Regions from separate parts of the Homo sapiens genome. Here region 2 is linked to region 1. The links come from fine-mapping of genetic effects on plasma protein levels. Region 1 holds a variant in brackets. A gene starts in the other region. All regions are shown on their forward strands.

The links. PIP is the posterior inclusion probability: the model's chance that the variant is causal. Protein levels are from antibody-based Olink assays in UK Biobank. Linkage for the fine-mapping came from a reference panel and not from the study's own genotypes, which makes the PIPs less certain.
Region 2: it holds the start of WFDC12, and the variant in region 1 is fine-mapped to the plasma level of the WFDC12 protein (UK Biobank, PIP above 0.99).

What each region holds. Positions count from the first base shown.
Region 1 is chr1:151,816,013-151,831,155 of GRCh38, forward strand. RORC (RAR related orphan receptor C) reads right to left here. Exons shown (of 11, transcript NM_005060.4): 2 at 13,417-13,446; 3 at 1,183-1,268; 4 at 652-793. Among named protein-coding and RNA genes, the nearest start is that of RORC, 8.2 kb to the right of the region's middle. RefSeq lists enhancers at 6,071-6,572, 6,573-7,072, 8,842-9,777, 13,039-13,724, 14,411-15,098. The variant T/C (reference allele first, on the strand shown) is at 3,835.
Region 2 is chr20:45,115,211-45,130,353 of GRCh38, forward strand. It overlaps WFDC12 (WAP four-disulfide core domain 12), which reads right to left and starts at 9,255. Exons shown (of 3, transcript NM_080869.2): 1 at 9,159-9,255; 2 at 8,897-9,055; 3 at 8,215-8,733. The coding sequence starts at 9,237. The coding sequence ends at 8,636. It also overlaps a transcript of WFDC5 not described here. RefSeq lists an enhancer at 1-401.

The sequences.
Region 1 (15,143 bases):
CCCTGCGTGCTTCCTTTTGCTTTGTTATTTTGGGCACTGAAAAGTGCTGACGGGCTCCTTCTGGCTCCTCATCACCTCATGCCCCCCCAGCTCCACCCTAGGCTCCTTCTGTGGTGGTGGAGGTGTGCAGGGAGACTGGTGAGGAGGTGGTGGGTGAGGAGGGTGGATAAGGCACCAGGAACACCAGCCCTCCCCCACGACCACCCTCTGGTTGTTCTCAGGCCAATTCTGTTTCCATTCCTGGCTATAGTCCTGTGTCCAAGTATGGGAATGGGGGATTAGAAAAGGAGATAGAGCTAGAACTACAACAACAGGGTAGCAGGGGAAGGTGCCAGAGCTGCATGGGAGCTGGGCCAGAGGGCAGCAGAGTGAGGAGAATTCGTTCCAAGTAAGAAGAGATGAAGAGGTATGGGACCTTGGAAAGAGGATGTTTGTTCTAGCAAAGCCTAAAGTTGGGGACTCCAAAGAACTTTGATGGGGGTGACCCATCCATCCCTGGAGGGGAGGAGACAAGGGGTTGTAACGGGGAGGAATGGAGAGGAGACCAGAGGATGGGCCGTCTTGCAGGTTAAGCCTTGTCTAGCTCAGCAGGCCAGGCTGCCCCTCTGGAGACACCAGGAAAACCCCAGGGGGCTGTCGACTTGGCCTCACCATCTCGGGACATGCCCAGCGCCAGGCATTTCTGCAGGCGGCAGTGCTGGCATCGGTTTCGGCTGGTGCGGTCGATGGGGCAGTTCTGCTGACGGGTGCAGGAGTAGGCCGCGTTACAGCGCTGGCTCCGGCGGAAGAAGCCCTGGGGAAAGCAGGTGGAGGGCAAGACTGCTTATCCTGGTCAGGCCCAGCTCACTCACAAAGGCCTCCAGCCCACAAGCTCTGGCAGCTTTTCTACATCCCACGACCTGTCAGTTTTCTCTCTCCTCCATCTATTTGTGTAATTGCAATTTATCCTGTAGTCATTTCCCCAGCTTAAGACAGGGCCCTGCCAGTGTTGAGGGCCCTGCAGGAAGGCGCTACTCAGGCATTTTCCTGGCTGCCCAGGAGATCATCCCTGGAGTCAGAACAAAGGCCATTAACCCCCTTGTTTATCTCTAAGGAGACACTGTGTGTGTGTGTGTGTGTGCGCGCGCGCGCGCTTGTGTATGCACACGCACACATGCATGCATACACATGCCTATGACTCACCTTGCACCCCTCACAGGTGATAACCCCGTAGTGGATCCCAGACGACTTGTCCCCACAGATTTTGCAAGGGATCACTTCAATTTGTGCTGGAAGAGAGAAAGAGAAGTAGGTCAGCCCAGGAGGCTTTTCTGCATTCAACCACCATGTACCTGGGCTGCAGATACAGGTACCTGGTGCTTCCACTACTTCTCCAACCAGCTCCAGCTTGCTGTTTCCCTCTTGCAAAATGGAAGGGGAAGTGAAATGCCAAATGCTTCTCAGCAAAGGGTGTGAGGAAGCTGTGTTTGTTTCACAGAGGAGGGGAGTGTGGAGGGGTGGCCGGGAGTTGTATCAGTGCTATGGAGGCAGAGAAAGCAGCTGCAGAGGGGCCACCTGCTCAGCCCTTCGAGTTGAAAAGCTCCAGTTGCCTCCCTCCCGCCTTGGGACATAGGACTCCTCACGGCCTCACAACACCTGCTTCCCGCCGAAGGGGCTTCCTCTGTGCCTCCCTCCCTCGCTGGGGCTCAGCTCCCATGGGCAAAGTGTAGGGTATAGCAGGAAGATGTGGTACACAAGGGGTGGGGGATAGGCAGAGATGCCAGTCCTTCCCAGCCAGACAGTGAAGGCTCAGGGAGGTGCTATACAGAGACAGGGTGAGGGGGTGGCAGGGAGGAACCCAGGAAACGGGGGCTCAACACCCCAGCTCTGCTGGATGCCTGAGAGCCTAGGGAAAGAATTAGCCAGGGCTCTTAGGCTCTTGGCCCCAGAGCAGAGAGAGGGTGGCTTTGTGTACATCCGTGTGTCTGAGTGTGAACACTTATGTTTGTACAAAGGCATCTGTATCCATTTGTGTGAACATGAATCATCAATGTTAAAAATGGCTGAGACTAGAGACCATCTCATTCAACCTCTTCATTTACCGATGAAGGACTAAGCCAGATGAGGCAAAGCGGTTGGGCCAGGGTCATAGGCTAGTTTGCCTGAGAGCTGGATCTACATCCCAGTTCCCCTGAGCTTTCCATTATGCTGTTCTGTGTACCTGTCTTTTCGGGTACACATTTCAGTGGGCATGTTTGAAGGTGTGCTTGTGGGTGTGCATATGCAAGAAAAGTATGTGTCATTTGTGAGCCTACGACATATCTGGTTGCTCCTGCGTCCACACGTGCATATTTGTATGTTAGTGTCTGCTCATGGGGCACTAGGACCCCGGGTTCTCTCTCCCACTGAACTCACTGTAACCTGTACCTGCTTCCCTACCCCTGTGGTTTGCTGCTGGCCCTAAGCTCATCTCTGCTTTGCCCTGTTCCTGTCAATGCCCACGACTCTCTGCTGAGCTTCATGGGACCACAGGAGGCCTTCTCCCAGCTCTTCCTTGAAAGGTAGCTGGGCAAAGCTTGGGATCCCTGGTTACTGTAGGTGTTTTTAGCATTTCCCAGAGCACATGGGTCTCTTTTCCACCATCACTGACCTGCTGCCTCCCCTCTGAGTGGGGAGCCCTGGGGCGGGACAGGCCAGAAAAGTGAAGAGAAGGGCCAAAGCCCCTTTTAATCTATGACGTGTCTCCCACCAAAGGGGCAAAAGAAGTGGCAGCCTCTCTGGAGGGCGAATGCACATTGCTGTGATCTCACCTCCAGTCCCTGGCCTGGACACTGGTCACATGTAGGGCCTGTTGATGTGAAGTGGGCAGGGAGACCATGGCTTGCCCGCCATTCCCCAAAATATTATTTCCATCATTCTTAAACCATCATCCCTCAGGCCAGACTTGAGGTGAGTCAGAGGCAGTAGCTGACCCTGACGGGGACAGGGCACATGGGTATCTGAAATCCCTTCATTAGCACTCAATTCCTCACCCAACCCCCAGCCACACGTGCCTGCCCAGCAGCAAGCTTCCAGTGCTCACACTGTAAGCTGTGGTCCCCCCAGGACCAGGCGGTAAGTGAGTTTTCCAGGTTCTTTCCAGTAAATTAAGAGCAGATTTTAATACATGGAGGGGAAGAGAGAATAAGAGGGCACTGGGTGTCTGGAACAGGGGCAGAAAACGTTGGGGCCCCCATACTTCTAGTCACTTAGATTCTCCCTCTAGACCTACGTTTTCTTGTCAGCAAGATCAGGATAAAAGTATTATTGCCTGTCCATGGGGTGATTGTAGGTAACAGAGAGTAATGAAATGATATCACCAATGGAAAGCACTGTGTATTCAAGTTACTCCTGAGCAGAGGTCAGGCTGAGAAGACCAGTGGGCCTGGCAAGGCTGAGAGGAGCACTCGGGCCCTGTGGACTCTGTTCTTGCCCAACACCTCCCCCTCCAACACTGTGGCATCTCTCTTTTCAGTGGCCTAAGACCAGAGATGGGAGAAACCAACGTGGGCCACCCAAAAAAGTAAGCGGGAGGGAGATTAGGCCAAGCCGCAGTGGGAACTCGGGCTCTGGCCCAGCAGTCAACCACAGGCCTCCCTGCCTCTTCCCTTCTCCAAGAGCCACATCCGCGTGCGTGTGTGTGCTGACCACATGGTGACCCCAGACACATCTCCCTGCCCCATGCTTGACCCACTGCTTCTCCTGGCCCTAGGAACCTCACAACAGTGTCACCAAGACCTTGACCTTCTCATAGGAAGATGCGGCCAGTCAAGGACCCCCTTCGCAAATACCCATGTTTGGGCGACACCAAAGCCT[T/C]GGACTCCAGCCACCTGGTCAGCCCATCCTCCATCCTCCCAGTCCAAGACAGAAGTACCCAGTGAGACAGACACACAAGGCCAAAGACTCTGAGCTAGAATGTCAGACCCCCTAGCCTCACTGAGCTGGAGAGACCAAGAGGTTTGGGTCCAGGAAAAACAGAGACATAGATCTAGGGATGGAGAGACGGCTGCGGAAACACTGAAACACAGAAAATCCACGCTTGTATCCTGGCCTTTGCCCAACCCATGGCCCCCTCAGCACTTCAGGCCCTCTAGTCCTGCTCCCCCCTCCTTCCCCTGCCACCTGCACTCCCTTCAATGCCATCCACCCAAACCTCAGAAAGAAAGTACCAGTGCTGTGTACATGAGGGTGTGTGTTACTTGTAGAGAAGGGGTGGGGGAGAACGGGAAGGGGGCTGGTAGACTTGGGGGTTGGTGAGAGGAGCTGAAAACACCTCTGATGATAACTCACCTTCAAAAGCTACCCCTGGGAGACACGTCCCTGAAGCAGCAGGTGGTGGGAACTCAGATTGGGGAGAAGGAGCTGAGTAATCACAGGATTACTCAAACTGTTGCCCTGGAGCCAGGCCTGCCAGGAACTTACCATCTAAGGGCCTGCCAGTGCCAGGAACTAGAGCCAAGCAAAGGTCAGGAACCTCGAACCAGCCCCTGCACCACTGCTCCCATGGCAGCCCTAACTCTACCCTCGCCTGCTGTCTTGGAAAGATCTTTGCATCTCACCTGCAGCTCTCTCACTGTAGCTCTCTCCTGAGAGAGAGCTTTCTCCAAAAGAAAACTCCAATTCCACATCTTCCAAAAGGAGAGACAAATGCCCAAATGCACCCGCCAGCTCCTTAAGTCATCTAATGACTGAATGACTATGGCTTTCTGCATCTCAAACAAGATTACCTGGGGATCTGAGGTGGGACTCAAGATTCTGCACTTTGGTCAGCTCTTAGTTGGTGCCTAAGCTTACTGGTCTTCAGCTTATACTTTGAGTAGCAAGAACTTAGTCCCTATTCCTGCCTTTTTGCCAGGCTGCTCCTTCCAGGGAGTGGGGCTGGGGTTGGCGATCTTTTCCTGAGCTCATTCTTGCATCTTTTCTGCCATCCAGTGTGACCTCTAAGACTTCATTCTGAGACAATACTAGAAAAAGAAACTGAATCTCCTCTGAATTGCTTTAGAGACTGAAGTACCCCCAGGAGCATCCTAGTAGCTCCTCCTATGAGGGGAAATACGGTAGAGGCAAAGTCCTCCATCCTCCTCTAATCGAGCCTCTCACAGCTGTGAGATTCAATGATAGTGCTTTGAGTACTTCCAGAGCCTGGCCCTGTGCCAGCTTAGGAAGCCAACCCTGGGCCCTGTCCAGGTGCCCTATGCCACAGAGAGGAAGTGGTAGGAGCAGGGGAGGGGCTGCAACCCAGGGGGATCTCTCCTCTCAAACCCCAGAACCACCACCCCCCCACCATCATGGTAGAGAATGGGTTCACACAGAGAAACCCCGGGGTCCTCATCTCCTCCTGGTGCCTCGTCAATCTAGAGCTGGGCCTTTTCCTCTCCTCTTTCTCTCTCCTTTTTCTCCAGTGGATACTGATTAAGGAGAAAGGATAATGATAGACATAAGCATTGGCTGAATTCTTACTCTGTGCCAGGCTTTACATGCATTTTCATTCAATGATCACAACCACCCTGTGAAATAGGCCCTGCTAGTATCATCCTCATCTTACAGATGAGAAAACTGAGGCCTAGAGAGAATAAACAGCTTGACTAAGGTCACACAGCCAGAAGTGGCAGATCTGGCATTTGAACCTAGATCTCTGTAATTCTGCAGCCAGTGCCCTCAAGCCTTAAGCTATATACTTTATGAGGATAAGACGCCCAAATGCACACCGGAGACCTGGGTAGAGGACATGGTTATTTGGCTGTAGGGGTAAAAGTGTGAGGTGATTGTGGTGGTCTAGGAACAGAATTCACAGAGGAAACCCACAGAACTAAAGCCAGGACTCCTGTTTGTATAAAGATCCCAAGAGATATTATTCCCTCTGTCCCAACTCTTCCTCTGAGGTCCCAGCCTCCTCCTGCCCTTACCCCTTTCTCTAAGGCCAAGTGGGATGACTTATATATCAACAACAGGGTTCCCGGGGACTCCTCAGGAACACCACAGCCCCTTTAGGGTATAGACTAGGTTTCCATACATCTTGGTATGCCTCCCTTTGCAGAATGAATGAATGAGTGAGAAAGAGGAATGCATCTCTTTCCTTAGCTTGAGCTCCTCCTCTCCCCACAGCCAGAACTCTCTGTCTCGATCCCCACCGAGACCACAGCTCCGGTCAGGGGTCACTTGCACACCCCAACCTGTCACCAGCCTCCCTCCTTTCTCAGCTCTCAGTTCCCCCAGCTTCTGCAAAGCTGGAAACCAAGGTGGTGGGTGCCACCACAGGGGAGCAGGAGCGGGAGGGCTGGGTGGGGGCTGGGGGAGAAGTGGTTCTACCTGGCGAACACTACCCCCAGCCCAGGCCAGGGCCCTCACCGCAGCTCCTGGTGAGAATTTTCTGCTGAAACACCCAGATCCTGGGGCTGAGAAAATAGTGAAGCTAAAACTCAGGTGGGCGAGGGAGAGTCTGGGGTTTTGAAAAGCCATGAATGACAGCCAGCCAGCCACCCGAAACCCCCTCCTGGTGCCTCCGCCACCCCCACAGTCTGGGACTGGAGAAAGGCGAGTGAAAACAACCAGTGAATGGGGGAGGGGATGAATCACTAGGAGGAAGCTCTGGCGAGTGGGAGCCCAGACGTCACCATCAGCACCTTCCCTGCCTTCAGGGCCATCTGTCCCTCATCCCAGAGCACCTTCACTGCTCCAGGAGGGTAGTGGACCCAGAAAGACCTTGGCTCTGGCCCTGAGGCCCTGCCTTGTTACTGTCCCTCCCCCGAAATAGACATCTCCATCCTTTTTGAGCCTCAGAGCCCCAGGGAAGGGGCTGCACTGCAGCAGCAGGCGTGGAGGTGAGACTTCAGAAAGGACTAGCTATATGGGAACAGGAGCGCGGGCCTTGGGCTGCCCGCCTGGGAGAGACCTTAGCCCTTGGAAAGTCCTGTTCCCTGTTAGTTTGAGTCAGCAGCACAGCGGCAGGGGATGGGGAGGAGCCCTTGGTAGGGACCGAATATTTTCATTGTGCTGGGACAAGCTGAGTCTTTTCAGAGTCTAGCACCTTGGGCTCGGTGGTTTGGTATTTCTGTTAGGAATGGGAAGACGGGGAAAGAGAAGGGTGCTGGAGTGATGAAAGGAAGGAAGAAGCCCTTCACGGAGTCCTAAGATGGCCCTGGGCTCTCAGGGTGATATCTGTGTACCCTGGGGACTTGGAGTCCTTTCTGGCCCACTGTTCCTCATGATCATGACCAAACCTAAGAAAGATCAGCTCATAGACAGTGACCTCACACCCCTCGGCCTCCCACCTCCCCATCCAGACCAAATGCCAGGGCCTGAGTGCCTATTGGCGCCACGCTGGCCATGCCCTTAGGGGAAGATGTCTGGGCTACCCTCCGTCTGGCTGGCTGGGAGTCTCTTTGGCGTACAGACACATTATCTCCACTTGACAGCAGCAGGTCGGATGGCAGGGTGCTGGTGCCATCCTTGTCAGAGCCACCCTACTTCCCTCTTACCGCTTGCCTAGACCCTGTGTCTCCCTGTCTTCCCTTTACTGCCAGTTATCTTTTCTCTCCGCCTCTCCCTGTGTCTATGTGCCTTGTGATCTTCTGCATTCCAGCTCTGTTTCTGGGCTTCACACCTTCATGTTTGTTTGTTTGTTTAAGAGACAGGGTCTCGCTCTGTCACCTAAGCTAGGGTGCTGTGACATTGATCATAGCTCACTGCAGCCTTGAACTCCTGGGCTCAAACGATCCTCCTGCCTCAGTCTCCTGAGTAGCTGGGACTACAGGTACACGCCACCATGCCCAGCGAATTAAAAAAAACTTTTTTTGTAGGGACAGCGGCTCACTTTGTTGCCCAGGCTGGTCTCAAACTCCTGGCCTCAAGCCTCAGCCTCCTGAAGTGGGATTATAGGCATGAGCCACCACGCCCGGCTGCACCTCCATGCGTTTGGCTCTATTGGTGTTTCTCCAACCACACCTCCAGCTGGACATTACTCTCTCCCTAGGTGTTCCAGAAACTCGCCCTCTGAGTTGGGCCTCTGCATCTCTCCTTATTTCTTGATTTGTTTCTGCTCCTTTTGTCGGGCCCTTGGTCTCTGGGTGTGTCACAGTCCCAAGCCCCATGTGCTTTGACTTTTGCCATCGGCGGTTGGAGGGGCTGGTGGTGGTTGGCACTCATTGGGGTCAGATAACTTGGGGCTATGAGATACCTGTAAATGTCCAAGTGAGAAGGACCAGTGGCACTGACCCCCTCGTTGGAGGAGGCCCTCTCTCCTACTTCCCCGCCTGGGTGGGGCTGTGTGTGTGTGGTGGGGGTGGGAATAATGGAGAGCTGGCCAAGTGTCTCCCTCAGCCCCTCCTGGGGACTCCTGCCCCGCTGCTGGGCTAGAAGCACACCTAGTCATTTCATCCCAGGGTTGATTTGCTCATTAGGGGCCATCTCTGGGAAGACCAGTCTGCCAGCGTTTGCTGCTAATAGAGAGAAGCTAGAAGGGAAACGGAAGCTCCAAGGGGCCCTTTCCTCTGTGTAGAAGCTGTTGGCTCTTCTCTCCAGCCCTCCTTATCCACCCCAGCTCATATGCCTGCACTGTGGCCTCAGTCCCTGTCACAGAAGTGGAATTCTTTTCTTTCCTTGGTTTCCCTTCCTTCTAACCTCTGGGAGAGCTGAGTCTCCATCATCACCCTTGGGGATGCCTGCCTTAGGGCACTGGGCTCTCTCTTGGCCCTGGGCCTTTGGAATGGGAGACTCTCCATAGTTGGTTTTGTTGTTCTATCTTAAAATTCAGCTCCCTTGTTTTGCGGATGGTAGACCAGGGCCCAGTGACTTGGCTTGTCTAAGTCTATATGGCTAGCCAGTGATAGGCGGCACAAGTGCCTGGTCTTACACTGTCAGTCCAGGGGTCTTTCCAGGACTCAATACGGCCTCCCTTCTGTGGCTTGTGGGAAGACCCCAGGTTGAAGCTGGGGCTGCTTCAGGCCTCAGCCACAGGGGCATGGGGCTTCCCTTTTCCTCCTTCACCTTGTGCTCTGAGAGCTTCTCTGGCTTCCCTGGCTTCCCTTCACAACAAATACAGGGGACTTCCTGAGGTTGCCCACCCTTGCTCTGCTGGAAGGCACAGGAACCCCAGACATCTGCCCACCAACTGTTGGCCCAGGGCTCCAAGCCAGGAAAAGGGTGAGGCCGAGGTCTTTCCAATCCCATCTCCATTGCCTTGCTTCCCCGGTCAAATGGGTGACTGACCCTGGAGAACCACACACACACATACACACACACCCCACACACACACGCACACACACACATGCACACACACGCAGGCATGTGCCCGGGTGCACCCTGACTGGATTCCACATAGTCCTCATGTCCCTGGATTGGGCAGAAAGCCTGGTGGCTTTGAGGCCTGGACGCGGGGATTCTGTGCCCTGCTGCCTGCCAACCTCAGTTGACTCTCGCTGTCCTGTTGCTTCAGAGCACAGCAACTGCTCTGGCCTCCTTTTACTCACAAGCAGGCTGGAGGCACAGAGGGAAACACCGTAACAAGGGAAACACTGTAACAGGAGAGTGCGTTCAGGGCCCCTAGTAATTACCAGCCCCCATCAGATACCAGCTGTGTAACATTGGGCCAAGTACGCGGCCTCCTTGGCTCTCAGTCTTTTTGTAAAATTAAGGGCCTGGATACCTCAGATACTTTTGGAGGTTCTTTTTGGAACTCAGGAATTCCTCAACAGTCCTCTTACCATTGCTGCTGTCAGGGAGCCGCCTGGCCAGCAGGACTCCCCAGCTGCTCCACCCATCTCCCAACAGATCTTGACCTTGACCAGGACGCACCCTGCTTTGCTCAGATTTGCTCACACTGTTCCCAAGACATCCTCCTTTCCAGAGGGGTGACGACAGGGTCCAGGCTCCCCCGCCCCCAGGTGGCCCCATTCACTTACTTCTCATGACTGAGCCTTGGCTCTGCCGGCCTTGGCTCCCTGTCCTTCTCAGCAGGGGGTGGTCCAGGAGTGGGGTGCAGCTGGCGGCAGAGGCGGGGCGAGGCCCTCTCAGCAGCGCCTCAGCCTGAAGCTCTGCACCTAGCTCTCTCCCCCAGTGCTTCTGGACTGGGGGGTTTAAGCTCTGCACCACACAGGTGGCCAAGTGACAACCCCCCACCCCACCCCCAAGGGGTGCAGTGAGTAGGATGACAGGCGCCCCACGTGGCCAATCTGGGCCTGGGGCAGGGTGTGAGGGGAGGGGCAGCCAATCGTAGGGGGCGTTGGAAAATTCCAAAACCACATGCGACAGCCACACGCGGTAAAAGCTGTTTCCACCCGCCAGGGTAGTTCTGGCTGGGGAGCCAGAATGGAGCTCACACGAGCCTGAAGCCAAATTTCTACTCCTCCTACCCCCGAGGACCTTCCAAGCCTGACCCTCTTTGCCAGGTGACTTCAGGGACAGGGATGTTTTCAGAGGTAAGTCACAGGATGTCTGCCTGGGGTGGTGGCATGTGCCACCTGACACCCTGTGGACTGCCAACAGCCATACCCAGTGTGGTGCAGCCTGGGGGGCTGTCCCACCACTCCCATGCCCACGCTCCTCCCTGCAGACACCACATATATCTTGCGCTAGGGAATACATGGAAATGATAGAAGCAGTAATAATCACCAGGCAAATACCCACAATCCACAGAAGGAAACCAGAAATTTCCTTAGGAGCCAAACTGCTGAAATTGGAGTGTAGATAATGATCATCATCACCATCATCATACTCATAATCATAATAATAGTGCTTACTATTATGTGTCAGAAATGGTTCTCGATGTTTTATGTGGATAATCTAATCCTCACAAAATACTTTATGTGGGCCGGGGGCAGTGGCTCACGCCTGTAATCCCAGCACTTTGGGAGCCCAAGGTGGGTGGATCACCTGAGGTTAGGAGTTCGAGACCGGCCTGGCCAACATGGTGAAACCCCATCTCTACTAAAAATACAAAAATTAGCCAGGCATGGTGGCGAGCACCTGTAGTCCCAGCTACTCAGGGGGCTGAGGCAGGAGAATCGCTTGAACCCGGGAGGCGGAGTTTGCAGTGAGCTGAGATAATGCCACTGCACTACAGCCTGAGCAACTGAGTAAGACTCTGTCTCAAAAAGAAAAAATAAAAAAACTTTATGAAGTAGCTACCATTATCCTCATTTCGAGGAGGAAAGTGAGACACAGAGAGGTTAAGTAACTTGCCCAAGGTTACACAGCTAGTAAGTGGCAGAGTCAGGATTCAAGCCCAGGCAGACTGGCTTCGGATCCCACTTGAAGGATGGGAGGGTTTCTCTGGTTCAAGTCTGCTTTTGAGGGTGTCTCAGCCTGGGAGGTCCCTCGGTATGTGAGTCTCTCTGGAGTGTTTTTTGGCCTGGGGGAGGGGGGTCCTTCTCAGGGGCCAAACAATTCCAGAGACCTTCTCAGCCTCTTAGGTGCTTTGTGGGGTACATTGGCTTTGAGAGTCCCTCTTCAGGGCCCCTCAGTATTCAGGCTCCCTCTTGGTCTGGGGAGTTCCCCCGGGTTCCCCATCTTGGACCCCCATCTTGGGGTTGTCTCAATTCAGGAGCCAATTTTCAGAGTCTCTCGGCCTGGGGGAGGCCTTAATGTCTCCTGGATTCTGTGGGGCAAACTCCTGAGAGGTGTCTGATCTTGCTGGGACTCCAGACCCTCTCATCCAGGCACAGGCCTTTCCTTGCCTTCCTGGGCCTTCCTGGGGCTTCAGGAGCTGGGCCGTGGAGTGGGGGAGAGGCTGTCAGCCTGGATCCTCAGGACAACACTCTTGGGGTGGGGACACGAGGACTGGTGGGATGGGAAAGGGATAAGGAGGTATAGTCCTGGCTGAGGTTTCTGAGGTCAGGGGTTAAGGGTAGGAATAGGGTTTGACCTCTCCCAGTTCCTGCTGCTCCGAAAGTCCCCCTACTCCCCCCACCCACATAAGGTCCGTGACCCCCCTCCCCCAGCTCACCCGCGTCACTCCCTGACCCGCTTTCCTCCCGGGGCCCTGCTCAGCATTTCCGTGGGGCCCTGTGGCTAGGGGCAGGCGAGACACTGATCAGGATTATGCTGAGCAAAGCAACCCCCACCCAGGAGGAGGTAGCATCCTGGATGGCCCTCAGCCCTGGGCTGCCCAGCTCATGGAGAAGGGCAATGCTTTGCTCTCTGAGATGTCTCTACTTGGAACAGGGAGGCTCTAGACAATTTTGGCATTGGGCGAGATGGCAGTGAGCTCTCAGGAGGAACTGGCAAGGCAGTCAAGGGACGGCTATGGAGAAATGGTGTGGCCACTCCTACCCTGGAGGGATCCTCTCGATTCAGGGACCCATGCTCACAGAAGGGCACGCATGGCCCTGATGGGCATAGCTTTGGGACTGTGTGCATTCTCTGGGGGACTAGCCTTTGCCACAAACTAGGAGAGGAGAGCTGATGTGCTGAGTGGTCCCTAGAGAGGATTCTTATTCACTAGCGTCCACTGGGAAGTCCTCTCTGAGCTCTAGTGCCCTTCTTACCTGCTGTAGTCTGGCTTTCAGGGCCCCAGGACACAGAGTGCCCCTGTCCATTCTGTTTCCTACAGAGATAAAGCTCTCCTGCTCTCTAGTCCTGCACAGGCTGGCTCCAGGCTTGTTCACACCTCAGGATGTGTTAACCACAGAGATGAACACCAAACCTGGCTCAGGACCACAGAGCTTGGTGCAGGCTGGGCACAGTGGCCCATGCCTGTAATCTCAGCACTTTGGGAGGCCGAGAGGGGTGGATCACAAGGTCAAGAGTCTGAGACCAGCCTGACCAACATGGTGAAACCCCGTCTCTACTAAAAATACAAAAATTAGCCAGGCGTGGTGGTGGGTGCCTGTAGTCCCAGCTACTCGAGAGGCTGAGGCAGGAGAATCGCTTGAACCTGGGAGGTGGAGGTTGCAGTGAGCCGAGATTGTGCCATCGTACTCCCGCCCAGGCGACAGTGTGAGACTCTGTCTCAAAAAAAAAAAAAAAAAGCCTGGTGCAGGCTCCCTGTCTCCCTTGGCAGCAGCGCTGAGTTCCTGAGTTCCTGAGGCCACCCCGCCTCCGCACACCCCCCTACCTCTATCTCCTTCCTTCCCCGGCCTGGCAGTCGGCCCCACCCCCTCCCATCTCCCTGCCTCTGTCCAGCATTTCTCCTCGCCTTTTTTCACAAGGCGGTTCCCTTTTCCTTTGTTCTCTCCTGGTTTCTTTACAGTGTTTCCTTTCATGCTTCAGGCTTCTTCCTCATCTCCTCCCACTGCCCTGATCTGTGGTTTCCTCGCACCTCCCCTTGCTTTCCTGTTGCCTGCCATCTCTTCCTGACTCCTCCACCTCTGTCCAACCTCAGTCCCCCCACAGATCACTTGCTGAATTATTCTCCATCTCATTATGCCCCAGCCATTTTCTTGCCCCGGACCCCCTACTCACAGGTGTGGGTCTTCTTTGCAGCCAGCAGCTCTGTAAAGACAAGAGAGGGGGTTGACGTCAAAGGTTGAAGATCATGAGGGGCTGAGACACTTTCCCCACTCCTAGGATCCCACTGCCGCACTCCTTCCCTCAGAGCCTGGCGTCTGAAGGGCAGGCAGGCCACCCCCTGCAGTGCCCCTCTCTCCTCCTCTGCCCTTGGGCCACACTGGCCCTCTTCCAGGTACCCAGAAGTGTCAGGCTCCTCACTGCCTCTGGGACTCCCCCAAGCTGCTCCTTTGCCTAGAATGCCTGTCCCTCCTGTACCCCTTAATCTAGCCAACTTCTCTTTCTCCCTCAGGTCTCTGATTATGTTTCTTCCTTGGAGAAGCCACACACACCCCCTTCCCCTGCCCTTGTGCTGACACATTTAGCTCCTTGCATTTTATTTCCTGGCACTCACCATGTCACCAACTGTCACCTAACTGCTGTAATTGTGTCATTGTCTATGAAATGGGTCTTTCCTGCCAAATTGTAAAGCCCTGTGAAGGCAGGGACTGTGTTGGTCTTATTTACTTTGTAATTTCATTGGAGGTGCACAAGAAATATCCTACAGCCAGAGTTAAATCTCTGTGGGACTGAAATCTCTTGGTTGCTTATCTATGCCTGAAAACACCAGGGCTTCAGAGATGTGGGGGTTGGGAGTAGGGGGAGAGGATGTTTGGAGGAAGAGGAGGGGAGAGTTGCAAATACAGACCCCTCTCTGGCTTCCACGGGCCAGGCTTCCCTGGCCTACCAGCCTGAAGAGGAAGGCCTCCCTTCTCTGCTGCTGCTGCGTGGCCGGGTCTGGGTGGAGATTGGGCAGTAGGGAGCATGAGTGGGTCGATGGGGGTCACATGGATACTCGGACCTCCAGGGGGAGCAGCCGTTGAGGGGAGGGCCTTAGCTGGAGCATGGTTGGTGGGTGGGGGGGTGTCACCCATTCATGCAGTTAACATCTATGAAACACCTAGCCAGGGAGCCCCTGGAAAGAGGATTCCCCTGCCAGACCTTGGCCCATTTCCTACATCCACATAGCAGCTCATCACAGAACACATGGCCAGTCTTTTGTCTCAGAAAGCCCTTCAACCATGCCCTATACCCCCTATAGCTTCCCTAACCTCTGACTCTATTCTGTTATTTTTTTCCTTCTGCTGTTCAGTCTTGACACCTGACATACACACACACACACACACACACACACACACACACACACACAGTGCCCTTCTGCCCGGGAGATGCTCCCCACTGGCAGGCCGTGGTCACTAGGCTGTGTGGAGGCGAGTGGCCTGATGGCCTGGGCTCTGCTGGGGTGAGGGAGGAGAAAAGACTGCCCCGAGGTGGCAAGGCCCCACCCAGCCCCGCCCACCTCCCCTTGCTCCTGCCTGGCCCCACCCAGCTTCCTCCCTGACGTGGCACCGGCTCCTGGCCTCTAGCCTTGCACCTCAGAGCAGTCCTGTGGTGGGGGTGCTCCCCTTGCTCACCCAGGCAGCCAGTTCTTCCTCCACCAGGTGGCCCTGGAGCTTGGTGGCTCTGGCCCTCAAACTTTCCTCCTCCATGCTCACAGCTGACCAAGCCTGTGGCCCTGCGATCCTGCTCTGAGGGGGTTCCTGACTTGGACCATGGGTGGGGCCAAGGACGGCCTGACATTCTGTCCTTCCCTGCTGATGGCCCAGTGCCCCACATTCTCTGCAGAGATGAAATCCCACATC
Region 2 (15,143 bases), not on the chromosome of region 1:
GGCCCCACCCCCTGAGGGCCCGAGGACTCAGTGCAAGGGATGCTGTCACAATAGCTGAAGATAGGGTGGCGGCACATCCTGCATGTGGGGGACTCAGATCCAGTCTTGCCTGTATCGGTGACTTGGGCTGTGATCTTGGGCAAGTCTTGTCTCTCTGGGCTTCAGTTTTTTCATCTGTACACAGGGTGAAGGTTGTTGAGGCAGATGCTTGCTATCCTGGCTCTCAAAGATGTTGAAGCCCCAGCGATGTCTAGGCAGCGGGTAGAGGTCAGCTTTGAATAGCAAAGGAGTGGGGGTTTGCAGAGTTCTGGATGCCTAGGAAGGGAGAAGGCATTAGGGTTAGGCCAGAGCTTGCAGCCAAAGAAGGCTGGCCCAGGCTGGCATAATGAGTGAGGCCAGCCCTGGCCTCTCCTCTTGGGTCCTGTGGATGGGAGAAAGACCACCCCGCCTTTGGTGAGATCACCAGTGGCTTCTGATAGAACTGCCCTCTTCCTGGGGCTGGCTTGGCTGTTGAGGGTGGGGGAGCATGGCTTTTGGCTTGGCTAAGTTTGCTGGTCACAGCAGATGTGTGGCCACTGGAACCTCTTCTCTGGCCCTAAGGGATCCTGAGCAAAAAAATGTCATCTCATCCAGGGACCCCCACCTTAGATTTCGTATCTCTGATGTTGCCTCCTGCATTTGGTAGAAGAGAGGGAGCTGAGACTTGGCATCCTAAGGGACATCCTAAACAGAAACTCCATCGAAGTACATTCTCTCAGCCTTCTCATTTGAAAGACGAGGAAACTGTGAGATAGAGATGAGAGGGGACTGGCCCAAGGACACGCAGCTAATTCCTGACTAAGCTGGGACTTCCCACTGTGGCCTCCCCATCACCCTCATTCAGTTCCTGGGTTTTAAAAGCAGGTCAATACCTCATCTGATCCTGAGAAAGGAGGGTGATATTACAGGGCTTGTCTCACTTACCCATTCCAATCCAGGACAGCCCTGGCAGCAGGAAGTTCTTCCTTGGGTTTAATGTGAATCTCTCGTGCTGTCTTCTAAGCTATTAAGATAGGAGAGGCTCTGTCTTCTATGATCTGATGTTGCTTTTGGAATGCTGGCACCTCCTTGGAAGCTTTATTTTGGAGGACAAATATATGAGCCCTTCCTTCCTCCCTCCCTCCACCCCTCCCTCCCTCCACCCCTCCCTCCCTCTTTCTTTCTTTTTTCTTTTCTTTCTTTCTTTTTCTTTTTCTTTCTTTCCTTTTTTCATTTCTTTCTTCTTTCTTTCCTTCTTTCCTCTCTTTCTTTCCTTTCTCTTTCTTTCTTTTCTTTCTTTCTTCTTTCTTTTTCTTTCTTCTTTCTTTCCTTTTTTATTTCTTTCTTCTTTCTTTCCTTCTTTCCTCTCTTTCTTTCCTTTCTCCTTCTTTCTTTCTTTCTTTCTTTCTTTCTCTCCTTCTCCTTCTTCTTTCCTCTCTCTCTTTCTCTTTCTCTCTCTGTCTTTGACAGAATGTCGCTATGTCACCCAGGCTGGAGTGCACAGTGCCATCATGGCTCACTGAACCCTTGACCTCATGGACCCAAGTAGTCCTCCTGCCTCAGCCTCCTGAGTACCTGGGACTATAGGCATGCGCCCCAATATTTGGCTAGTTTTTATTTTTTGTAGAGATGGGGGGTCTTCCTATGTTGCCTAGGCTGGTCTCTAACTCTAGGACTCAAGTGATTCTCCCACCTTGGCCTCCCAAAGTGCTGGGATTCCAGGGGTGAGCCACTGTGCTCAGCCATGAAATGCTCTTTTTTTTTTTTTTTTTTTTTTTTTTGAGACGGAGTCTTCCTCTGTCATCCAGGCTGGAGTGCAATGGGGCAATCTCTGCTCATTGCAACCTCCGTCTCCTGGGTTCTAGCAATTCTCTGCCTCAGCCTCCCAAGTAGCTGGGACCACAGGCGCCCGCCACCATGCCTGGCTAATTTTTTGTATTTTTAGTAGAGACGGGGTTTCACCATGTTGGTCAGGCTGGTCTTAAACTCCTGAATTCAGGTGATCCACCCGCCTCGGCCTCCCAAAGTGTTGGGATTACAGGCATGAGCCACCATGCCAATGCTTTTTAAATTAAAATTATTTTGTAGACATTTTCCTGTGCTGTGAAATGTTCTCTAAACATCATGTTTTCTGATGGCTACATGCTGTTTTGTTAGATCTATATGTCAAAACATCACTTCAGTAAAGTTTTTAGGGAAAAAAGATATGCCAAAATATACACAATCAGTATCCTATTATGAAACATGGAGGTTTCCAATTTTCCACTTTCATAAATAAAGCTGTGATAACCATCTTTTTGTGTACATTTTGGAGTCACATCTCTGACTGTTTTCTTAAAGTAAATTTGTCAAAGTTAGAAATGCTAGGTCAAAAGGCACAGTCATGTTTCCAGGCGTTGGATATATCTGGTCAAATTAAATTTCAGAAAGGAAGTAAGTGAGTGTACAAGAGCCTCCACCTGCCCTGCCATAGACCTCTATTGTTTCGTCTGCCCAGCGTCTCTTCCTTTGGTGGAACCATTGCCTCCTGACTGCTGTCATTCTGGTTGGTTGCCAATCAGCAGGTACTTCTCCTATCAAAGCTGAGGGCACTGGATCCAGGTTACACCCACTGCACTCTTCTCCACCCCTAACTTGCCCACGCCTTCATTAGAGTCTTGAACAGATAAGCCAGTTCTCTAAACAGAACAGTCCAAAGCTCAGATGCTGTTGCTCACAGCCAAAGATCCTTAGTGGATATTCTTACTACATACAGGATATTAAAAAAATAAGTAAATAAAATCTTTGCTAACGGAAAACAATATTTCATTTTAATTTGTCTTCCTCTTCCTCTTAATACCCATGATGGTGAGCATTTCTTCATATTCGCATACTGACTGTATCCTTTCTCTGTGAATTGCCTGTTTTTGTATTTTGCTCATTTTTATTGGGGGTCCTTTTATTTTTGAGTTTTAAGAGCTGTTTATATATTAAGAATCTATTAACCTGTCATACACAAGGGGCAGTAGTGAACAGATGTATATTGGAGTTAGGCAGACCTAGTTTTGAATCTTGGTGCCATAGGCTCTATCTGTTTGACATTAATTTTGTAAAACCCCTGTTTATTTTTGTATACCAGTAGAGATAGAGATAATCATATACGTGTTATAGGATGGTTCTGAGAACTGAATGAGATAAACTTGATAAATGCTTTGATGCTATATTGCAAATATTTCTTTCCTCATTTTTGCTTAGTACCAAAGGATTAAATTTTGGGGTAATCAATTCAATCTTTTCATTCATATTTTCTCCTTTTATTTTTATGCTAAAAAGGCTTTTTGACTCTGATGTTAGATAAATATTCACTATATTTACTTGTTATTATTTTGTGATTTTTGAAAGACATGATAATTCTTTAATCTAGCTGAAGTTTATCTTGGTATAGAGCGTGAAATAGGAAATATCTTTTTTTTGTAAGTAATTAAGCAATTGTCCTATGATCATTTAGTGAATAATTTAAACTTTTGCCATTGATTAAGAATTAAAACTTTATCAATAACTTAAGTCTTATTGTAACAGGGGCTGTTTATGGGTTTTCATTTTTTTTCTTTTCCTTTTTTTTTTTTGAGATGGAGTCTCGCTCTGTCACCCAGGTTGGAGTGCAGTGGCATGATCTTGACTCACTGCAACCTCCACCTCTCGGGTTCAAGCAATTCTCCTGCCTCAGCCTCCTGAGTAGCTGGGATTACAGGCACATGCCACTACACCCAGCTAATTTTTGTATTTTTAGTAGAGACAGGGTTTCACCATGTTGGTCAAGCTCCTCTCAATCTCCTGACCTTGTGATCTGCCCGCTTCAGCCTCACAAAGTGCTGGGATTACAGACGTGAGCCACCGTGCCTTGCCCGTTCTTTTCTTTTGACTGTTTATTCTTATGCCAGCACAGACAAGCATGTATTGTGGGTTCAGTTCCTGACCACTGAAATAAAGAGAATATTGCAATAATATTTGGTTAGTTTTTATTTTTTGTAGAGATGCGGGGGGCGGGGGCCTTCCTATGTTGCCCAGGCTGGTCTCTAACTCCTGGACTCAAGTGATTCTCCCACCTTGGCCTCCCAAAATGCTGGGATTAAAGTGAGCCATGTGGATTTTTTGGTTTCCCAGTGTATCTAAAAGTTATGTTTGCACTATAGTGTAGTCTATTAAGTGCAAAATAGCATTTGTCTAAAATAAGTATGTACCTTAATTTAAAAATACTTTATTGCTAAAATATGCTAATAATCATGTAAGCCTTCAGTGAGTCATCATCATCTTTCTGCTGGCGGAGGGTCTTACCTTGATGTTGAGGCTGCTGAATGATCAGGGTAGTGGTTTCTGAAGGATAGGTTGACTGTGGCAATTTTAAAAAATCAGACAACTATGAAGTTTGCTGCATCCATGGACTCTTCCTTTTTTTCAACTTTCATTTTAGAATTAGGGGGTACATGTGCAGGTGTGATACAAAGGTATATTGTGAAAGATTTCTCTGTCACATATTGTGAAATACTATCAAACATGCAATGCTGTTTGATAATATTTTATACACTGTACATCCTCTTTCAAAATCAGAGTCATGGCATGGTGCAGTGGCTCATGCCTATAATCCCAGAGCTTTGGGAAGCCAAGGCAGGAGTATCACTTGAGCCCAAGAGTTTGAGACCAGCCTGGGCAATACAGTGAGGCTCTACCTTTACAAAAAATTAAAAAATTAGCTGGATGGTGGTGCATGCCTATATCCTACCCCCTCGGAAGGCTGAGGTAAGAGGATTGTTTGAGCTCAAGAGTTCAAGGTTACAGTAAGCTGTGATCATGCCACTGCACTCCAGTCTGGGCAACAGAGCAAGACCCTGTCTCTGAAAACAACAACAACAACAAACAGTTGGAATCAATTCTCTCAAACCCTGCTGTGTTATCGACTAAGTTTACATAATACTTTAAATTCTTGGTTTTGTCATTTCAGCAATGTTCACAGCATCTTTACTAGGGGTAGATTCTATCTCTCAAAACTACTTTCTTTGCCCATCCGTAAGAGGCAACACCTCATCCATTCAAGTTTTATCATAAGATTGTAGCAATTCAGTCACATCTTCAGGCTCCACTTTAATTCTAGTTCTTTTGCTATTTCCACCACATCTGCAGTGACGACTTCCTCAACTGAAGTCTTGAACCCCTCAAAGTCATTCATGAGGGTTGAAATCAACTTCTTCCATACTCCTATTCATGTTGATATTTTGACCTACTCCCATGAATCATGAATGTTCTTAATAGCAGTTAGACTGTGAGCCCTTTCCAGAAGGTTTTCAGTTTACTTTGCCCAGATCCATCAGAAGAATCACCATCTGTGGCAGCTATGAGATGTATTTCTTAAATAATGTATAGCCTTATGAGATGTATTTCTTAAATAATAAAACTTGAAAGTTAAAACTACTCCTTGATTTGCAGAATAGATGTTGTGTTAGCAGGCATGAAAATATTAATTGTCTTGTACATCTCTGTCAGAGCTCTTGGGCTATCAAATGCATTGTCAATAAGTAGAAATATTACAAAAGGAAAGTAGAAATTGTTTTTTTTTGTGAGCAGTAGGTCTTAACGGTGGGCTTAAAATATTCAGTAAACTATGCCGTAAATGGATGTGCTGTCATCCAGGCTGTGTTGTTCCACTTATAGAGCACAGGCAGAATAGATTTAGCATAATTCCTAAAGGCTCTAGGATTTTTGGAATAGTAAATGAGCATTGGCTTTAACTTAAAGTCACCAAATACACTAGTCCCTAATAAGAGAGTCAGCCTGTCCTTTGAAGCTTTGAAGCCAAGCATTGACTTCTCTCTAGCTATGAAATTCCTAAATGGCCTCTTCTTTCGATAAAAGACTGTTTCATCTACATTGAAAATCTGTTGTGTAGCGTAGCCACCTTCCTCAATTATCTTGTGTAGATCTTCTGGAGAACTTGCTGCAGCTTCTCCATCAGCACTTGCTGCTTTACTTTACACTTTTATGTTATGGAGATGGCTTCTTTCCTTAAATCTTGTGAACCGACCTCTGCTATCTTCAAACTTTTCTTACGCAGCTTCCTCACCTCTCAGCTTTCATAGAATTGAAAAAAGTTAGGGCCTTGCTCTGGATTAGGCTTTGGCTAAGGGGATGCTGTGGCTGTTTTGATTTTTTTATCCAAACCACTAACATTTTCTCCATATTAACAATAAGTCTGTTTCACTTACCATTTGTGTGTTTGCTGGAGTAGCTGTTTTAATTGCCTTCAATAACTTTTCCTTTGCATTCATAACTTGGCTAACTGGTAAAAGAGGCCTAGCTTTGGACCTTTCTTGGTTTTCAAACATGCCTTCCTCACTAAGGTTAATCATTTCTAGCTTTTTTTGATTTAAAGTGAGAGACATGACTCTTCTTTTCACTTAAACACTTAAAGGCCACTGTAAGATGATTAATTGGCCTCATTTCAGCATTGTTGTGTTCCAAGGGAGAGAAACAGAGAATGGCCGGTTGGGGGAGAAATCAGAACATATGTGACATTTATCGATCAAATTCACTGTCTTATGTGGGCACAGTTTATGGCACCCTGAGACAATTAGGAAAGTATCATCAAAGATCACTGATCACAGACCAACATAACAGATGTAATGATAATGAAAAAAATTGAAATATTGTGAATATTACCAAAATGTGACACAAAGACACATAGTGAGCACATGCTATAGGAAACATGCAGCCAATGTACTTGCTTGGTGCAGGGTTGCCACAAACCTTCAATTTGTAAAAAATGCAATGACTGCAAAGCACAATAAAACAAGGTATGCTTGTATTGTGGCTGTAATTGTTGTAGCTCCATAATATGTTTTAGTGACTGGTGGTATCCATTACCCTTCATTAGTCTACATTTTCAATTTTCCAGGTTACAAGTATTTTATTGTTCCATGTGAACCTAATGATCATTTTGTTAAGTTGCAAAAACAAACCCTTGTTTTTATCATAAAATGTTTTCAAAAATGCACAAAAGAACAGCAAATACTTTTATGGAGCCTACATACCCATCATCCAGATTCAACAATGAACCATTTTACAAGAATTCCTTCATGCATATCCCCACCCCTTTTTTGGCTGAAGTATTTTAAAGTAAATCCAACCGATCTTATACTTTACCTTTAAATACTTCAGTGTGCATCTCTAAAAACTAAGGACACTTTCTCACATAATGACAATCCTACTGTTACACCTAAGAAAATTAACTGCAGTTTCTTAACATCATCTAATATTCTATTTGCATCTTGTTTTTCTTATTGTCTCAAAAGTGACTCTATGGTTGTTGGTGCACATATTGCATTGGCTGTAATGTATCTGAAGTTTCTTTTAATCTAGAACAATCTCTCCAACTCTTTTTTATTCTCCTTTCCTCCCTCCTTCTTCTTCTTCATGCTATTGACTTGTTGAACAAAACAGACAAATTGTTCTTTAGAATGTCCCATGTTGCTTCCCTGTGATGTCTTTCATCTTCTTTGTCCTTCACATTTCCCATAGATGAATGCTAGCTGTAGAGGCTTGGTGAGGTTCATGCTCAACTGTCTTGGCAGGAGCCCTTCTTGAATGATGCTGTGTGTTTTGTGTTGCATCACCTCAGGAGGAACGGAGGTCCGCTTTACCCATTTTTAGCATTGTGGAGACAGATTAATGTGTTTTCGGTGTGTACCTGAATCCTCAAGTTGTAAACTTGTGTTTTCCCTCTTACAAACTGTAAATATACCACAGGGTGATGAAATGGCACCCTGTAAATATTCAGAAGCCATGGATAATCATTGCCAGAATCAATTATTTCATTAGGGTTTGCAAAACCCAGTGGGTTTTAATTTTAATTATATTTCAGGTATAAATTATGCTGACCAAGGTGAACACTTTGAGGAGGCTTCCTGCTTGGGGAAGAGCATATCTTTTAAAAAACATTTATTTATTTATTCTGTAGAAAAGTTTAGTCTATTTATCCAGATCTTTTAAAATGTCATTTAATAAAGTTTTAGGGTTTCCTTTCAGAAAATTTCTGTACATCTCTAGATTTATTTGTAGGTATTTTATATTTTATTCACTTTGATAATGTTGAATAGGATTTTTTTTTTTTACTATTAGGTTGTCTTAGCAGGTTTGGGCTGCTATAACAAATTACCATAGACTGGGTGGATTATAAACAGCAAATATTTATTTCTTACAGTTCTAGAGGCTGGGAAGTCCAAGATCAAGGCACCAGCAGATTCAGCATCTGGTGAGGACCAGTTTCTCTTCTCTGACAGTGCCTTCTAGCTGTGATCACACATTGCAGAAGGGCAAGGCAGCTCTTTGGGGTCTCTTATAAGGGCACTGGTTTCATTCATGAGGGGTCCATTCATGAGCATTAGGGAGGAGCACCAGGTAGAGAGGGAAAGTACCGTCCCTGGGGTCTGGACTTTTTGTGACTCTTCCCTCTTTTTGGGGAAAAGGACTTCAAGCTCAGGTTTTCTTTGGTGGGGTTGGGTATTGCTTCTTCCATATTCCAAGTCTCAGGACCCTCAGGGGCAGGTGCCAAGTGAGAGTGACCCCCAGAGGTAGAAAGGACCCAGCATCATTTCTGAGGACACCTGGTAGAGGAGGAGCCTGGACACTTGGCCTCCCATCCTGGCTCAGGGTATGGCCTTGACACATCTTCATCCTTGTTTCCTCCTTTGGACAATGGAGATGTTCAGACTAGGTGGTCTCTGAGGGCCCTGCCAGCTTTAGCCATCCCTCCCCACACCAGCTAAAGGGACTAATTCCTCCGAACTTTCATGGGTCAGATAGAGGCAGGGAAGGGACAGCCCCAGCCCTGGGAGGCAGGTCTCCTTACCTTCTTCCAGTTCCTTCACAGGAATCACACACTTGAAGCCACAGTGCAGGTAACAACACTTCCTTTCCCCCAGACAGTCCTGGTCTGTGTGACACTGGGGAGGATCGGACTTGAAGCAGCGTACGTTGTCAGCTGGGCAAACCCCTGCTTTCTCTATACCTAGTGGAGGAAGCCACAAGGTGATATGAGAACTCCAGCCCCAGAGGGCCCCTCAGGACCTCTCCCCAGCCCAGCCCCACCCAGCTCCACCATGTCTGCTCACCCTCTTTAACTCCTTCCACAGCCACCAGGGTCACAAGAACGAGAGACACCATGAGGACCAAGAAGCTGCTGGACCCCATGTTGCCAGGCAGGTGCTTGGCTGGGAGCTGGGCTGAGCCTGGCTTTATAGTGTTCCTGCTGGGCATGCCAGTGGGTGGAGCTGAAGGCTCAAAATGGCAAGGGAGGCTGCACTTCCCAGCTCTATTTGGAAATGGCCCCTTCTGAGGAGGGACTTGGGGCTTTCCCTAAGGCTCTGCACTGGAATAGATGAAGAAATCCAAGAGCGACCCTCGTTCTTCACACGAGGAGAAGAAATGGACACGTGATTGACCATTAGGCGCCACCAGGGCCAAACTATCTTATGGAAGGAGGAAAAGAAGCACAGAAAGGGCATGAAATTACTCAAGTTCACACACGAGGCAGTGGCAGGGCCAGACTTCCTCAACTCCACCGTGTTCTCTATCAGTCCCTCTTCATGCCTGATTCACCTGGGACCAAAATCTTCCCTCCTTCCTGTGCTGCCCCGGACTTGTTCTCAGTTCTCACCTCACCCCAAGGAAGAATCTGAATGGCAGTGCTTAAAATGTCTGTCCTGAACATTCACTCTCAGCCTTGCGCTCCAGCACCGTGTGCTCCTGCCCCCCGCCAATCTCATGTGGCCTGGAGGAAAGCAGATTTTGGACCTGTCACCAGCTGTGTGACTTTGAAAGCAGCTTCACCTTTCTAAGCCTCCGTTTCCTCATTCATACAATGAGCATAATAATTATACTGTATCATCTTCATAGGATTTGTTTTCCCTCCTCTGCCCCTGCATCCCCCAAATTCCTGGATTTGGAAGAAGACATGGACGTGTGTGCGTGTGTGTGTGTGTGTGTGTGTGTGTGTGTGTGTGACCAGGCTTTTGGGGTCCTTTCTTTGAATGAGTACTAAAGGGAGGAAAATCCTTCCTGTTGGAAAAGTTGCAGATATAAGCCCAGAAACTCCAGAAATTTGGTCCTGGCCCTGGTGAGAGAGAAATTCTGAGAAGATAAATCTAAGATGCTGATAAAAAGAGATGAGAGATGGACAGGGAGTAATTTAGAGGATATCTAGTCCTTCACTAAACTTTTTCCTGAGATCAGCCCCACTCATACCCAGGGTTATGTTACCACCCAATACATTCACCTTTCTGCCTAAGCTGGTCTGAATTGGATTTCTGTCATTTACTAACAGGACCCCTGAGTAATGCAAAGATTTGGGTTTGGGGTGTTCCACATCCTGAAGTGTGGAAGGGACTGAGTTGGGGTTAAGTGGAGGCAGGGAGGATACCTCCATTCCTGGAAGTGAGCCTACTCCTTATTAGGTGGTGAATCTTTGGTTACAATCTCACCAGTCATATCACTGGACTCAGATCATTTGGATACCAGGGATGGAATCTGGGAAGTTCATAAACAAATACTAGAATGTTGGAATGTATTGGCTATTTCCTCCTCCACCTTTTTATTATGAACTTTTTAAACATACAGAAAAATTGAAATAACAGAACAATGATACTTGTATACCTACAACTGGATTTAACAATTATTAATAGTTTGGGATATTTTAGAATACCTATAGCTACATTTGTTGAAATATTTGAAATGAAATTGAATACATTATGTTCCTATTTCCTAAATACATCAGCATGCAAATTCTAAGAATAAGGATATTCTTCAATATAATCACAAAGCCATTATCATATCTAAGATAATTAATAGTTTCTGCATGTCATCTCATAGCCAGTTCATATTTGTTTCTCCGGTTCTCCCCAAAATGTCATTTGTAATTGACTGTTGATGATACTTCTTTAAAAAAAGTATTGTAAAATAAATCCTACATATGAAAGAATGTAATCAACATTCTATACCTTTTGAAAAAGAATAATAAACACCTATGAACCTATCAATTTAGAATAGGACATTACCATCCCTACTTCAGAGGTAACCACTATCTTGAACTTTCTGTTAATCATCCTCATGTTTTCCTTTAAAGTTTTGCTCTCTTGCTATGGCTTGCTTAGTGATACGTGTTGTTTAATTTCGTGTAAGCGTAATTATGGCCTAAGTATTCTTTTGTATTTTGCATGCTTTGCTCAACACCGTGTTTTTTTAAAAAATTGTGGTAAGAAATATATACTATAAGACATGACCTCTTAACATATTTTTAAGTGCATACTAACAGTATTGTTAATTGTGGGCACAGTGTCATACAGTAGGTCTCTAGAACTTTTTCATCTTGCATGACTGAAACCCACTGAATAGCAACTCCCTATTCCCCCCACCCCCAGACCCTTGGAACCACCATTCTGTTTTCTGCTTCTATAAGTGACTACTTTAGACACTTCATAAAAGTGGAATTATGCCATATTTGTCCTTTTGTGACTGGCTTATTTTGCTTAGCATAATGTCCTTGAGGTTCACCCATGTTGTAGCATGAGATAGACTTTTCTTCTTTTTTATGGCTGAATAATATTCCATGGTATGCATATATATGTACATGTATATAATCTTTTTCCTTCCCTCATTTATCTGTCAATGGGTCAATGCACATTTAGGTTTCCATTTCTTGGCTATTGTGAATATTGCAGCAATGAACTTGCAGGTGCAAATATCTCTTTGGGATCCTGATTTAAATTCTTTTGGATAAATACCCAGAAGGGGGATTGCTGGATCATGTGATAGCTCTATTTTTAATTTTTTGAAGAACTTCCATACTGTTTTCCGTAGTGGCTATACTCCTTTAAATTCTCACTGACAGTGCACAAGGGTTCCAAATTCTCCACATTCTCACCGGTACTTGTTTTCTTTTTCTTTTCTTTTTAAAATAAAAGCCATCCTAACAGGTATGAGGTGATCTTATGGTTTGATTTTCATTTTCCTGATGATTAGACATGTTGAGTATCTTTTCACATACCTGTTGGCCATTTGTATATCTTCTTTGGAGAAATGTCTGTTTAAGTCTTATTCACTTTTAATTGGGTCTTTATATTTATATGTGTGTGTATATATATATATATATGCATATGTACACACACATATATATAATGAAAAAGAAAAGAAATAAGTATTAGAATGGGAGACGAGAAAAGCCATTGTTTGCAAATGATGCAATAATAAAAACACAAAAGAAACTACAGATACATCATGAGTTAGACAATTTTTCAAGATTAGCTGACACAAAAATCAATATATAAAAGTCAGCTGCTTTCTATACACTAGAAATATTGGTTAGAAAAATGTAATACGTTAAAAGCAATAACATGTAAAATATTTAGTAATAAAGGCAACCTGTGAGATGGGAAAAATATTTGCAAACTACCTACCAGATAAGGGGTTAATTTTCAAAATATATAAAGAACTGCAACTCAATAGCAAAAATATGTTTACATATATATATACATATATACATAGCAAAAATATGTTTATATATGTATATATATAAATACATTTAGGCTTACATTTAGGTTTCCTAGAAACCTAGACTGTCTAGGAAGCAAGCCCCATAAGGAACTTCTCATATTCATATTATAAGAAGGTAAAATTGCAGGGGACAATGTTCCTGTTTTGTAGTAGTAAACTACCTTCTCAAAAGGTGGTTATTTTGTCCCCAGGGGACTTTGGCAATGTCTGGAGACATATTTGATTGTCACAACTGGGACAGATGTGCTTCTCACATCCAGTGTCTAGAGGCTGAGGTTGCTGCTAAATATCTAACAATGCACAAGACAGCTTTTCACAACAAACAATGATCTGTCTCCAAGTGCCAATAGTATTGATGTTGAGAAACGCTGCTGTCCTGCCTCACTGACTAATAGCTGTGCATGGCCTCAGAACACCTCAATGTAGGCTGAAGCGAGTAATGATGGGAGTGTCTGCTGGGAGTATCCCATGCTTAGGAGTGCTGATCCTTGGCTCACTGGTTTCACCCAGTAAAGGCATTCCTTAGCCCATGCCATGTGACCTTGTGGAATTCATCCCATGTTCTGCTGAATCAGGTTAATAAAGTTCCCTTTTAATTCTAGTTAGCTAAGAGTTTTTCTCATGAAAGGATGTTGAATTTTTATCAAATGCCTTTTCTTCATCAATTGAAATAAATATATGGATTGTCTCTTCAATCTGTTATTTTGTGAATTACATTAACCAGATTTCACATTCATTGTCTTTTTTGGGCATCATTTATTTATGTGCTTCAAGAAAGTGGAAAGCCTTGAACCAAAATGGCGGAGTCTAAGACAGGGAATGAAAGGGAAGATATATTTCTCATAAACGTGGAATATATATTCCTGAAAATCATTAGGTTACAGAGTTTTGCTCACTACAAATAATAGGGCTTCTGGAAAAAATAGAGTTGAAGTAGAACATTCAATATTTGTGCAGTCTCATAAGTAATACATCAAACAAACAGAACCCACACCCAATAAAAACATGACCACAGTGTTAAACATCTTCAGTTCCTAATAAAGAAATTATGTAGTAAATGTAGCACTTTACTTTGACAAAAGATGGGGAGTTTGCTTGGTAAGTGGGTATGGTGAAATACTGTGGCTTTTGAGGTATGTACAAAAGGTGGAATGAAGGACATCATCATTCTTGGGACTAAATGTTGTTATACTGGAGGGTCATTGTCGTCAATCTTTTACTTCTGTACTGGCTTAAAACAGCAATCCGCTTCGTTGATTTGCCAGTTCCTCCCTTTTGTAAGGAAGCTGTATAACTCTAAATGAAACTGGATAACTGCAAAGTTCTATGCTGATGCTCTTGACATTAAAATCTTGATCTTTGGCTGGGCGTGGTGGCTCACGCCTGTACTCCCAGAACTTTGGGAGGCCAAGCCGGGCGGATCACTTGAGGTCAGGAGTTCAAGACAAGCCAGCCAACATGGTGAAACACTGTCTCCACTGAAAATACAAAAATTAGCTGGGTGTGGTAGTACATGCCTGTAATCCCAGCTACTTGGGAGGCTGAGGCATGAGAATCATTTGAATCCAGGAGGCAGAGGTTGCAGCGAGCTGAGATCACACCACTGCACTCCAGCCTGGACAACAGAGCGAGACTTTGTCTCAAAAAAACAAAAAACAAAACAAAACAAAAAAACTTGACCTTTAATCCACTACAATTGTTTATCAATATCACTTGAAGCTGATAGTAACTGATGTGTTAGGCTCACTAGCGGTCTCATCTCTGACGGAGTGCAACATTTAGCTTATTGCTGTGGTGAATAGCATATGCTCTCATTTATTCAAAAATATTTTATTATTTCAAACTTCTCAGTATTTAAGACATTTCTTTTATTTATTTATTTTTACATTTTTATTAATTTATTTTTTTAGATGGAGTCTCCCTTTGTCACCCAGGCTGGAGTGCAGTGGTGCAATCTCTGCTCACTGCAACCTCTGCTTCCTGGGTTCAAGAGATTCTCCTGCCTCAAGCTCCCAAGTAGCTGGGGCTACAAGCTGGCTAACTTTTGTATTTTTAGTAGAGATGGGGTTTCACCATCTTGGCTAGTCTGCTCTCAAACTCCTGATCTCAGGTGATCCACCCCCGTCAGCCTCCCAAAGTGCTGGGAATACAGGCATGAGCCACAATGCCTGGCCTTCAGGCATTTCTTTTAAAATCATGTTTCAGATTCTTGTTTCCAGGACATTGAACACAGTATTAAATACTTCTATCAAGAAGAGGATAGAACTCAGGATAACAGCACATCACGCACTTGGTAGGGCAATGACTATAGGTAAACTGAGATAAGAGGGAGGAGATGAAGTGTTTGTTATTTTGTGTGTCACTCAAGAGATACCATGTTCAATATTTTTGCATTCGATTTGTTTTATATGACAGGACAAGGCATAGTCACCTTATGAAAAACTGTATTAACCCAATTTTACATGTTAGTGATTTAATTCCTTATTTATCTACCATGTATGAACATATTCTGCTTGTTAAAGCACTTGCTTCAGCAGGAGAGACTCGTG